2 separate regions of the Homo sapiens genome follow, and region 1 is linked to region 2. The links come from fine-mapping of genetic effects on gene expression. A gene starts in region 2. The other region holds a variant in brackets. All regions are shown on one strand. Distances are from middle to middle. Region 1 overlaps CEMIP2 (cell migration inducing hyaluronidase 2). Region 2 holds the start of CEMIP2 (cell migration inducing hyaluronidase 2).

The links. PIP is the estimated chance that this variant, and not a neighbour inherited with it, causes the effect.
Region 1: its variant is fine-mapped to the expression of CEMIP2 in whole blood (INTERVAL, PIP 0.99).

Annotation. Positions count from the first base shown.
Region 1 is chr9:71,682,579-71,685,078 of GRCh38, forward strand. CEMIP2 (cell migration inducing hyaluronidase 2) reads right to left here. Exons shown (of 24, transcript NM_013390.3): 24 at 788-2,500. Among named protein-coding and RNA genes, the nearest start is that of CEMIP2, 85 kb to the right of the region's middle. The variant A/G (reference allele first, on the strand shown) is at 1,226.
Region 2 is chr9:71,766,865-71,769,874 of GRCh38, forward strand. CEMIP2 (cell migration inducing hyaluronidase 2) reads right to left here and starts at 1,649. Exons shown (of 24, transcript NM_013390.3): 1 at 1,493-1,649. RefSeq lists enhancers at 1,307-1,988, 1,989-2,670 and a silencer at 1,744-2,413.

The sequences.
Region 1 (2,500 bases), 85 kb before region 2:
TATAGGAAATGCAAATAAAAATAATAGGTAAATGCAATTTTGTTTTAGTCACAAAAAAATTACAGACTGGAGTTAAACAGTGGGCCTATTATATTAGTGCCGTGGTTCCGAAACCTGGCTGCATATTAGAATCATCCAGGGAGCTTTAAAAAAAATTCCAGTGCTCAGGCTGCACCCAACACCAATTAAATCTGAATCTGGGGGGAAGGGAGTAAAGTCCAGGCCTCTATATTTTTTTTTAAAGCTCCTCAGGTAATTCCAGTGTGCAGCCAAGATGGAGAACCTCTGCCTTGGAGAATACAGTCCCTGCCCTTCTGAAGCTTACTCTTACAATATTTACTTGGTGGATTCTGTCCACCAAGTGTCTTCCTCACTTCCGTCAGTAACTTCTTTACAGCTGGAATCTGGAATTTTAAATTTATAGATAGAGATATAAATTCACATACAGGCCAGGCGCGGTGGCTCATGCCTGTAATGCTAGCACTTTGGGAGGCCAAAGCAGGAGTATCACTTGAGGTCAGGAGTTCAAGACCAGCCTGGCCAACACGGTGAAACCCCACTTCTACTAAAAATACAAAAATTAGCAGTGCATGGTGGCGGGTGCCTGTAATCCCAGCTACTTGGGAGGCTGAGGCAGGAGAATCACTTGAACCTGGGAGGTGGAGGTTGCAGCGAGCTGAGACTGCATCACCTCACTCCAGCCTGGGTGACAGAGCGAGACTCCATCTCAAAAATAATAACAATAATAATAAAATAAATAATAAATAAATTCACATACACACATATATAAAATACATGCACACATATTTTTATTTAACTTAGGCCCTGATTATTAGTATATAAAACAGAAAAACCAAGTGCCTTGGTAATTTACATATCTTCTCCAAATCTTTAAAGAACCAAGCTCTAAAAAACACACGTAAAGATATTTAAGTCATAAAACACACACACACACACACACACACACACACACTCTAATGACCTTCAGGAACCATAATCCAATAATATATTTAATAGGTAAGATCTCATTCATCAATATACAAAAAAAAAAAACAAACCAGAAAACAAAAAACTAACTTTGATTAAGACATGTGCCCTTAGTAAGGGCACTTACAATTAGAAAGGTTTATCGGTAGCACTTTGAGGTAGCATATTTTGTAAAGTCACAGGGCTGCTCTGCAGTTTCTCCTGGATACAAAGGTAGAGGCCATCAGCCTTTGCCCCT[A/G]GAAGAGGAAAGTGAAATTATCTGTACTCATTGCCAGTGTCAGCCTGAACACACTTTCTACCACCCACCCTTGGCCATCCCTCCTCTACACTTTATGCGTCGGGGGTTTAGAACAACGTAAAGGCATTTTGCTGCTTCTTTCCTCTTGGTACGGCAGCATCCCAGGCTGTGGAGCCAGTTGCCTCTTGCCGCATGTGATTCACCAGCAGGAGACGCATGCACCCTGTGGAAAGGGAAGCTGGGCATCACAGCATGCTTTTTAATTGGCTTTAACATTTCATTAAGTAAGAGTGACTCATTCCTGCAAGGCTTTAAAGAGGTTCATTTCTGAGTATTCTCTCCACGATTCTGACCCTAGAAAGCGCTCCTTTTTTTCCTCCCTGGGTGTAATCATTTTGGGGTATCATTAAGCTTTCTGGGATTTTCCTGGCAGGAGGGTGAACAGAAAAGCTTTAAAAAATCCACACAAAACAATAACAAAAAACCCAAGTGCAAGAGCAATACCAAGAACAGACTTCCTTTGTGCAAGTTAAAATGATACAAGTTTACGGTTCAGGAAAACAACCTACTTCTTAAAACAAAACAAAACAAAACAAAAAAGGAAATATTCAGTTGAGCTCTGCATTTTAAACACAAATATACAGTCAAAAGAGGCTAAGGATTAAAGCTGCAAAAATGGTCCCAACAGCCTCAGACTTTTGCTGCAGGAAAATTTTTTGCCCAATGGTCACAGATTAAAGGGATATCTAATCCCCAAGAGCCCTTTTGTCCCAATATACTTCCTGTTTGAAAGTTTAACCCTTACAAGTAATTGATATATAAGTGAATAAAAATAGCACATGTCCAGGCAAAAAAGGGCATGAGCTGGGCCTGAGTTGCCACTTAAAACTGTCATTCAATATCATAGAAAATCCTCAAAGGCTGCCCAGAAACAGGGCCCCAGGCACTGCTGAACATGCCAGCCACCAAGTCAACTGCCACCCGACCCAACTGAGCATTAAACTTCAAGTATCCAAGGTGCTACAATAGCTGGTCCTCTAAAGACCTCAGGCTGACTCTCAGAAGCCCCCACTCCACCCCACCCCATTATACAAAAAGTAAAAACATTGCTCATGGTCATTACAAAATACGGGGGTGGAAAGTGAGGAATAAGAGATCTGCTCTCTGAATACACCAGCCTTACAAATACAAACAACGTCTTTAACATTTTGTACAACTAGAAGGTGCATGAAGCTGGTATCCAAGCAATAATTTCAAACGCTTTCTTTTCTCCCC
Region 2 (3,010 bases):
GAAAGCCAGAAGACAGATTTCCAGTTCCGCCCAAACTGATCCTCTAATGCAGGTACACAGAAGCTGGGGGAAGTCATTTCGGTGTGAAGAGAAAAGCACTCTAAAGTGCTACCCAATGTTTACTAAGCAGAGGACATGCCTACTACACATTCTTCTGCTTTGCCCAGAAATGCAAACTAAAAAGAACCCTTTGTATAGGTAATCAGACCCACAACCACAGTATGATACCCAGACCAATTCTGAAAAGAACAAGCGTCCTTCAAGGGTCAAATAAGCATTAGTAGCTCCATTCTAGCCAACCAAAGAAAGATAAGGCTAACCATTTTAAAGGTGTTTTTTTAACACTGAGCCATTTCCAACAGATTTGCCTGGCTGCTCTGGGGAGTCAGGCCTCCCTCAGCTCAGGTGAAGCCTCTACCCTTTCCCCTCTCTCTAAATTCTTCTCACTTTTTACCGGGAAGAGCAGCACATCTCAATACATGCAACTGTGCAGCAGCGCATCACTCTGTCACACTGAATCAAGGGGAGTGAACTCAAGGCAGTGAGTAGCTCATGTGCACAATGAAAGTTTTAAAAATTATTAGGCAGTCTATCCTTAATCCCAACTGCTGATAAAAGGAGATATATATCAAAGTCTGTTTTCCTAACCTGCGGAGAATTCAAGTGAGCTGTTTCCGCTCCAGGTCGAAGTCTGGTGACACTCATCAACCCTCAGCAGAGAGCATCCAGGGAATTCAGGACCTTGGTTTTATCGCTAAGGGTGTAGCCACTAGTGCTATTAACAGCAGCACTCTGGGTCCTCACAGAGAGGGCCCCCCTCCTTTACCAGGATCTCCCAACTCTGCAGAGAAAAGCTGGGAATAGGGTCCAGGGCTAAGGCTATTCCCCAGATTTAAAGGAAGCTGTACACGATTTTAAAGCCTCACCTTACCTCAGCTAACAGAGAGGCAGGGGGCGGAGGGCGGAGGACCCACCAACCCAGGGGAATTGTAAGGAGACAAAGATGACCCCAAACGCACAAGCGCGCGCGCACTGAAGCCCGGACTGCAAAGCACATTCCATCAACCTTTCACTGTAATCGGCTTACTGTGGGGTTTATCCCCTCACCCCATCCCTCTCCAGAAAGTTTAAGGCTGTTCGCACCGACTTTGAAAGGTCCATTGTTCCCTTCCCCGTAAACGTAATGAAAAGAGAGAGTGGAGAGAAAGAAATCAAGACACCGTTCCCGAGGACCCTTTCTTAAGAAGAGAGGACTGACTCCTGGGGAGTCGGGTCAGTCCCAATCCAGAGATGAAACCGGGAAAGGAGGCGCACGGGGGAAGGGCGGGAGGACGTTTTCCTTTTCGGCAGAAATGCCCAACGCCGGAGCCGGCCAGGCCGCCGGGAGCAGAAAAGGTGGGCGAGACCCGGGTCTGCGTCCCCGCAGTGGCCCCCGAGGGCAGCAAACGAGGTGGAGCGGGGTGGGGGGGCGGGTGACCGAGTCGCTTCTTACCTTCCCCTACCCCGCTTAGCGTCCGTTAACTCAGGTGCCTACACAGCGGTCCAGGGAGACGGAGAGGAGTCCCTGGCGTCCTCGGGTCCAGATCTCCTCTCCATGGCCAGGAAGCCACTCGATTGCCGGCGCCCGCAGCTGCCGCTCGTACTCAACTGGCAGCCGCAGCCTCTGCCTGGAGGTGAAATACTCTCCTCCCGAGAGTGACGCGCACTTCCCTCCGCCTCCGCCTCCTCCTCCTCCTCCTCCTCCTGCCCCGAGCCTCGGGGGCAGGGGCCTCGGCTCGCTCTCTCCCGGAGCCGCCGCTCGGCTTTCTCCGTTCCTTCCCCTCCGGGAGAAAGAGGAGGAGAATCGTGGCCCGGGCGGCGCGGGCCTGAGCGTCCCCGCGACAACAGGGGAGGAGGCGGCGGCGCGGGGCAGAGTGGGGTCCCAGGAGTCGCTCTTGTCCCTGGTCGGCGGGCGCCGCGGCTTGCTAGGGTCGCGCTCAGCCTCCGCCGGCCAGACAAGCAGCCCGGCTCGGCTGGGCCGGGAACTGTGGATTGGGCGGGCGGGCGGGCGGGCGGTGGAGAGCGAGGGAGGCGGAGGGAGAGGAGGAGCCTGCCATCAGAGGAGGCGGTGGCCCCGCCCGGCCCCTCCCGCCGGCCCCGCTCCCCGCGAGCTGCGAAAGCGGAGGCTCAGCGCCACTCGCTGCCGCGCGCTGGAACAGCGCCCGAGCGCACTGCCGGCGGGGCAGAGCCCCAGCCAGCGCCCCCCGCTGCGGCTGCAGGCTCCTACCCTTCCTGGGCGCGCACACCCGCCTGGCCGAACCGGAGCCTGTGCCTCCAGCACCCCCAGATAAGGCTGGTACTGCGCCTGTCACTCCCTGGCTGAGCCTGACACTGCGCCCCCAAAGTCCCCTGGCTGAGCGTGACTGCACCCCATCAACCCTCGGCTGCGTCAGACTTTGAGCCCCATCACCCGTAAAGAGATTTCCACACTCCCACAAATGTTCTGAGCGTCCAGTCACAGCCCCTACCTGGCCAGGCGCGAGCGCCAGGTTCTCAGCGCTGTCAGAAGAACCAGCCTGCTCTGGGACACAGGGCAGCTCTTCTGGTCCCTTGGAGCAACCCCAGCATCCCGCTCGCAGGCCGGAATAAATATACTTAGGTCTTCCCACGCCCCCTACCTGCGCCACTCTGGAGTGGCGGCCGCTTGCAGAGGTGGCGCCGAAAGCCACGCCCCGGCCCACCCCAGTGCCAAAACGCCGCTCTGAGGACACCGGCACCGGCCCTGAAGCAGCCCTGCCGCCGCCACCCTGCCCCCTCGCTGGAGCTGCTCTCACAGCCTTGGCTCTGGGTGAGGGCGCGGCCCGGGCTGGATCACTCAGACGCACGAGGTCCCGAGCTAGTGACAGCTGCAGGACTGCCAAATCCGGGCCGTCGTCATCCTCGATTTAATTGGAATTGGAAGTTTTCCCTCCAGGAAACTCTTTCAGTGAATAATATACAAGGTAGGATAGTTTAGTTTTCAGGGTTGTTC